Linked DNA regions of Homo sapiens. The protein of the gene in region 1 purifies or fractionates together with the protein of each later gene. This does not show direct contact. Each region holds a gene or a part of one and is shown on either strand. Other genes may lie near its edges.

Evidence for each region. Proteins that work in one complex are often made in the same cells at the same time.
Region 2: the proteins of GDF10 (region 1) and ZNF507 purify together in Homo sapiens (affinity purification with mass spectrometry; 2 studies listed by BioGRID and IntAct, with this or other methods). This does not show direct contact.

What each region holds. Positions count from the first base shown.
Region 1 is NC_000010.11:47,306,697-47,310,196, reverse strand, and holds part of GDF10 (growth/differentiation factor 10 preproprotein), read right to left. Parts: intron 402-3,500; coding exon 1-401. UniProt on the Homo sapiens protein: Growth factor involved in osteogenesis and adipogenesis. Plays an inhibitory role in the process of osteoblast differentiation via SMAD2/3 pathway. Plays an inhibitory role in the process of adipogenesis.
Region 2 is NC_000019.10:32,348,610-32,352,109, reverse strand, and holds part of ZNF507 (zinc finger protein 507), read right to left. Parts: intron 2,997-3,500; exon of another isoform or gene 2,757-2,996; intron 1-2,756. UniProt on the Homo sapiens protein: May be involved in transcriptional regulation.

The sequences.
Region 1 (3,500 bases):
ATAGGGGCTGGGCCGGGGCACCCCCGGGTCCCTCTCCTCAGAATCCAGCTGGGCGGAGAGGAGCAGCTCGCCATCCCGGCGGGCCGCCTTGACGATGGGGGAGATGTCCTTGGCCTGCCACAGGCCGCGCGGTGGGGGCGCCAGGGCCATGGCCCCGCGGAGTAGCCCCTGTGTGGCCGTGTTCTGCGAGAGGCTGCGGAAGAGCAGGTGCTGGCGTGTGGGCGGGCCCAGGGGCAGCGGGCGGCCTGAAGCGTTCTTGGCCCGCGGCTTGCATAGCACCTCGAGCGCTCGAGGCCACCGAGGCGGCTCTGAGTAGAAGTGGAAAGTGGCCGTAAGGATCATTTCCGAGTCTTGCATGGAAGTCAGGTTGAAGAAATACACGGCCTTCTGGTCGACCACTTCTGTGAGGGAAGGAGAGACCACAGGCTGTGAAGTTCTCGCTCGTGCTCCTGAGGGTCTCCCACCCAGGGCTGGAGGAGCAAACGCCCACCGATCCACACTTTCAGGACCATCCTCCTCCCCCGCTTTGCTTCCCTCCTTTCGTGTAATCCTCACATGAAACTGATGAGGGCGCCCTTTGCAATCCTCAGTGCACAGGTGAGGAATTAAGGTTGAGATTGTCAATATCCCGTAGCAAACAACAACAACAACAAAAAGCAACAGCAAAGAAATAGGGGCAGACAGGGAGGCATTCGGGCCTGCTGGACTCCAAAGCTCCTGTTTGCTCCCCCTGCCCTCTACTGCCTCTGCATGCACAAATGAACAAATGTCACTGACACCTTCATTAAGTGCTCAGGATGGCTTGGGTTGGGTCCAAGCCCTGCATCAAGGCAGCCCCTCCTGTATTTGCACAGCCCTCTATTTATGCAATCAGTTTTTAAATGCAATCATTAAATACACTTCACATTAAACCCAAACATTCTTCCAAAAGAGACGAAATAAATAAACGCTCATGCTTTTTGAGCACCTCCTAAGGGAAACCAGGATCAAAAGTACAGCCATTTAGGCATCTGCTCTTTGTTCTGCCTGAGGACTTTTAAGATTGTTTTAACAAGAAAAGAGCAGCATCAGGATTACACAAGGCAACCTGACTAAATCTCCAAGGTCCAGGTAAAGACCGGGACGTCTCAACCATTACATCTGCAACTTGGTTCAAGAATGCTCCAGCTCCGGCTTCCCTGGGGCTGCCGGCCACTCCTTCCTATTTGCCTGGTGGAAGCAGGCGTTCCCCAGGGCACCAGGGCAGCACAGCCATGTCAGCAGTCCCAGGAAGCTGCCCCAACCTTGGCAGCAGCATGAGTATTGTGTCAGGTTTGAATCGCCTAAACATTATTATATATCAGTGAGCGTTCTCAAATGGCCAAGTCCGCTCTAGGCTTCTGAGGAGTGGGGAGTCTTTCCTGGTGCCTCCCTAGGATGCCGCACACTAACAGGACACCAGAGAGGCCAGGCTGGCTTTCTCCTTTCCACTGCTTCATTTCCTGACAACGAAGTGTCCTTCTGCTGGGGAACGTCTGGAGAGGAGCAGGGCTCCCAAGCCCGGGAAGTGTGTGTGGGGGACACTGGGCTCTCTAGGGGCATGGGTCAGGGCCACACCTCTCTGACCCCTGTACCTACAGCATCTGCAGGGATTTTTTTTTTTAACAGAAATATTCCACTTTCTCTTCTTTGTTTCTGTTGGGAAGAAGGCATAATTCAACTGGGATTGTTCACATACTCTTAAGGGACTATGAGCGGGAAGAAACAGAGAAGCACATCTATGGAAGGCCTGATAAATAAATGCCAGTAAAGGCTCAGGTGGCACTGAAGCCATTACCTTATTTAATCCTCACAACAAACCTGCCAGGACAGTGTCACAGCCCCTCAACATGCTCCACACATAAGCAGCAGCCCAGGGTCTCAATGCACACTTGAACCTGGCTTCCCCAAGCATGTGGCCTTGACTGCATAACAATGACTTCCACATTTTAATCAGCACTCCAGGGGACTCTGGCCATCAGGGAAGTTTGGGAAGTCAGTGGCAGCTGATAGCTCACTCCGGTGGTAGCGGTGGTGTATCTGCAGCATCTGGGGTTGACCGATGGATGGGGTGAAAGTTCACCAATAATGTTGCACCCCCCCATCCCCAAGCTAGAAAATGCCCTAGGAACCAAGCTCCCAGGACTCAGTGGCGCCACGCCCTGAACCTTGCTTTCCCCATCTGCCTCACAGGGACAACAGCCTCCATCTCACACAGAGGATTGTCTGGAAGATCACAGAAACAGCCTAGTGAAGTGCCAGGTACAAAGGAGGTGCCCCCAAATGTGCTTTCTGCCTCTTGAATCTAAAGGACCAAGGCTGGCAGAGCAAGCTCCCCTCCATCAACTGGGGTACCTTGCATTCACTGATCCAAATATCTGAGCTGCAACCCAGCCAACACAGCACATTGTTTTTCTTTGATCCAGTTCAAGTCTCAACTCCTCCATTGTTCTGCTAACAGATTCAGAGTGGGGAGGAACCTTTGAGGTTGTGCAAAAGGGTATAAGTCCTACCTCCATGTGGCTTGAATGCCTCCTGCCAGAGGGAGCTCAGCCCTCACTGGGCAGCCTGCTCTGGGAAGACCCTCCCTGCTGGGGACTGCTGGGGACAAGATGGGTCACCCCCAGCCCCAGTGCATGAGGGACCACAGGCTGGTCCTCTCTCTGGATGTTTCTGCATGTACGCAGTGCAGGGGGCTCCAGGCTGTGGCTCAGAGAAGGGACCTCAACCTGAAATCTTTCAGTTTAGCCGAGCCCAAGCCATAAGAGAGAAGCATTGAAGAGAACGTCATTATTTCCTCTGATGCGTGCTGGTGCTCTGTGATTCATGTCTTTTCTCTCTTCTTTCTTCTCTGCCTTCCTCCCTCCTCTCTTTTCTTCCCCTCTTTCCCCTTTTCTATCCACCCTCTTTTCCTTTCTTTCTTCCTCTTCTTCTCTTTGTTTTCCTGATAAAGATTTGCAAAACTCCTACTCCAGGCTAAGTTGGGCTGACCAGGGTCATAACAAAGTTGCCCAGGAGGAGTTCAGCCTAGAGGGGAGACAGATAACAAAGTTGCCCAGGAGGAGTTCAGCCTAGAGGGGAGACAGACTGGTAATGGCAATGACACCCGTCTTCAGTGTCTCCTCATGTCACAGTTTTAAAGAGCACTGTCCAAGCGAGGCCCCCGGTGTGCTGGGTGCATTCCATCACAGGTCACCCCCCAAGCTCGGAGCCCTCCATTGCCCCAAATAAAACTCAACCCCTTACCAAGGCCTTACTTGATCTGGCCTGCCTACCTCTGCAACTTTATCTCCTATCCACAGCCCAACCCCACCCCTCTGCCCCCGTCACACTGGCGTTCTTCTCCTTCCAACATGTGGCTTTATTCTCAGGACTGTGCCTCACGCTTCCTTCCACCTTCATGGTTCCCCATCCAGTACCACTCAACCTCTTCAGGTATCTGCTCAAATGGAACCTCCCACAATGGGTCCCCTGGGCTCCCG
Region 2 (3,500 bases), on another chromosome or scaffold:
CTATTACTCATATCCACATATATGGTTTTTTTTTTTTTCCCTGAAAGGGTAAGGGACATCAGAGAAGGAAAAAATTGATATCCCAGTTGTGTTTCAGTTCCAGATATGAACAGAGTCCTTAGAAGAGGTTATTTGTTCGTTCTAATAATGCATTATGGCTGAGGAAGTCACTAAACATAAAATACCCATAAATCTTTCTGCCTAAGTCTAGAATACTCTTTCTATTTCCTGGCAGTACTTTCATTTCAAACATTTCCTTTGGCTTAAAGTGAGATTAATTTGTTGACTTGGATCACATTTTTAAGTTTAGGCTTTTTTCCAGCAACAAGTTTTGTTTTTCCACATTTTAGGTGCATTCTGGAATCTTACTCACAACATTCAATAAATGCCAACAAAATTTTTAGTGGCACTAGCTATAGACCAAAGACCACACTATTCTTAAACTTCAGTCCCAGGCTCTGAATTCTTATTTTAGGTGGTGAATCATGGCTGTTCTTCCCCGCATGGTTGAATCAACATATAAGGGCCCTTCAGCCCCTGCCAAGATGATACCTAATGTCCTGCCAGGCCCCGCCCGCCCCCACGCCACACACACACACATATACACAAACACAAAAACAGGCCCCGCCCCCCCACGCCACACACACACACACACACACACACACACACACACACACACACACACACACAGCTGACCAGCTTCAGTGCCAGGTCGCCCACAACTCTGGGCAGCAGCTATGGCTTTTCTTCCTGATTTTCTACTCCTTCTGGCAAGCCAGCTTTCTAGATCTAGGTCCACATCAGGCAAAAATGCAAACACTTTACTCTTGGCTTCTTCAGTACTATTTCTTCCCTTCTTCCTAATAATACTCTGCCCTATGGCATCAGCTTTTTTTCTCTTGGCTACTAGCTGTCTCTAACTGCCCTCACATGCATTCCATGGCCATTCCAACAATGACAGCTACCCTGGCTCCCAAAGGCCCGTGGTCCTTCAGCCACTCTCCCTTAAACAATCTCTCAAAAGACTAGTTCTGTTTCATCTTTCTCAGGTAGAAGGAACAAAAGTCTTTTTAGATCTCTACGCTCAGCTGTAAGTCATTAAAGAGGAGACCAATGGGGGAACAATTTGTTTCCTTAGAAAAACCCTTTTGTGACTTCCTAAGTCACTTTATTGTCTTAGAATTCCACATTTTTAGGCCAAGAGGAGCTGTGGCTCTTCATGTGACTACTGATTTCCCTTTAAGGTGATTAACTTAAGGCCTTATGTCTGTCAGTTCAATGGTTAAATGCAAATTGATTAAATAATAAGTTTAATAATAGGAATCCTCCTGAACACGATACGGCTCTCTGCTGTAGATCTAAGGTCTCCTTCCCCATGAAATGTAACACCCATGTAGGCTGACTGATCATCTGGAGGTTAACAAGTGAATGTTTGCTCAAGAGACTTTGCACACCCGTAGGGTTACAAAGGTGACTCATGTTATCTTTCTTCTACTTAATAAGAGAAGTGACACAGACCAGTGCAAATTGCTCCCTGTGGATATTTCAGTGTGTACCTTAAAAAGAAAGTGAAATGAAGAGAAGGAGGAGTTCATCTTAACTCAAGAAAAAGACTAATACAAAAGAATCTGACAAAACATTCAGATTTTTAAAGCTGTGTCGGCTCAGGCATTAAGAGCTAATGGAAATTTGCAGCAGATGCTCCAATTTTCCCTGAACATTTATGTAAGTATCTCATTTTAAAGGCTGCATACATTTGGGGATAAGTACAGTAATGGCAGCTATAAAACAGATATGACAACATGAAATACGTCAGGAAACACCTGAAAAACCAGTTTGGGTCCCCATGCAAAATCAATGCACAGGTTAATCTCATAAAAACAAGTCTCTGTTAAAAAAAAAAAAAAAAGGTTAGATAAACAGCTGATAATAAAGTATACACAGAGGGGAAGTTACTGTAAGGCCAACTCTTTCAATTTTCACAAAAATGTTACTTAGACCACTAATGCAGAAATACATATATATGAGATTGTGTGTCAAGTGAAGCAAATCTGAACAAAAGAGATGAAATAAGGAGTATACATACAATGTCAGTGGCTCAATAGTGATGACAACATAAACTATGACAATCTGCATACTCTCCTTGGCCTCCAAGAGATCAGTGTAAGCACAGCTTTAAAACAATTACCTTGGTGATACTGCAGTGGTGGGGTGGATAGGATGAGAATAAAGAAAGAATGACTAATTCTGTAATTGAAGTTGCATGATGAGTACCTAGGAATTCACTGTTCTTTCTACTTATGTAAATGTTTAACATTTTTCATAATAAAAAGGCTAAACAGATCATAATAAAGTATACACAGAGGGGAAGTTACCTTAAGGCCAATCCTTCAACTTTCTTGATTCCTTAAAATCACAGAAATTTTATTTAGACCACTAATGCAGAAATACAAATATGTGTGTGTGTGTAACAAACAAATTGTTATGTGCAAGGCGCAAGGCAAAGTATCAGGAAAAATTTTAAATTCTTAATACTTGCAGTTTAAAACTGAGTTGAGTGGATAAGGCAAACATTTGGAAGTTAAAAAGTAACAGCATTTAAACAACGCAATGGTACACAAGGTAAAATAAAAGGCAACAGTCAATGACTAAATCCTGAAAGATACTGAAGAGCTCTTTTGGGCTAGCAAGGTAAGCAAAAGCTTCATGGAGAGGTAAGATGTCCACTGGTTCCCAAAGGATGGGCAGCATGCCAGACATCATCCATTTGCCCTCTAGGCTCACTGTATCCTCCTTTCCATTCTGCTCTCTGTCAGAGGGATTACATCACTAGGCTCCCCTGTCCTCTGCCTTCTGGTTGAGGTCAGCCAATGAAGAACCATGACAGATCAGAGGGAGGTAGCAGAGTGAGATCAGAATATTCATCGTCCTGGTTCTCTACCTCTAGGTCACCTTGGATTGGCTGTGTTCCTCAATAGAAGGCTATTTCTTTCCAGGTAGGCTGCTCTCCAAGACCCTTCTTCTGATTCTGATGCCTCTCCCTCTCCTAATGCTGCTAGCTCCAGATAACTGCATTATGCTGTGGTTTGCTTATTGAAGTCCAACACCTTTATTACTAATATCTTTGTAAATATACCTTCCTTGAATTATCCTCATTTCAACGTGCCATTTGCTTCCTTGGAATACTGCTGATACAAGTTGACACAAGGGTAGCAGTGACCAGAAAAGCAGCCATGACATGACTATATTTTTAGAAGTAAGAATAAGCATGCTATCTGGGGGTGAGTGAAAAGATCGATATGGCTGAATAGGAAAGTTCACCAGGAGGAAAGAAGACGACAGGCATTAGCAAAACAGGAGATTTCTTGTTTGTAATGTTTAGACATAACAACATTAAATATATTAAATTGTTACCAATAAATAAGTAATAAACAAAAGTTGTATCCCAAACCAGAAAAGTTCTATAACCCTTTCCACCAACTCTCTCAAATCTTTCCTTG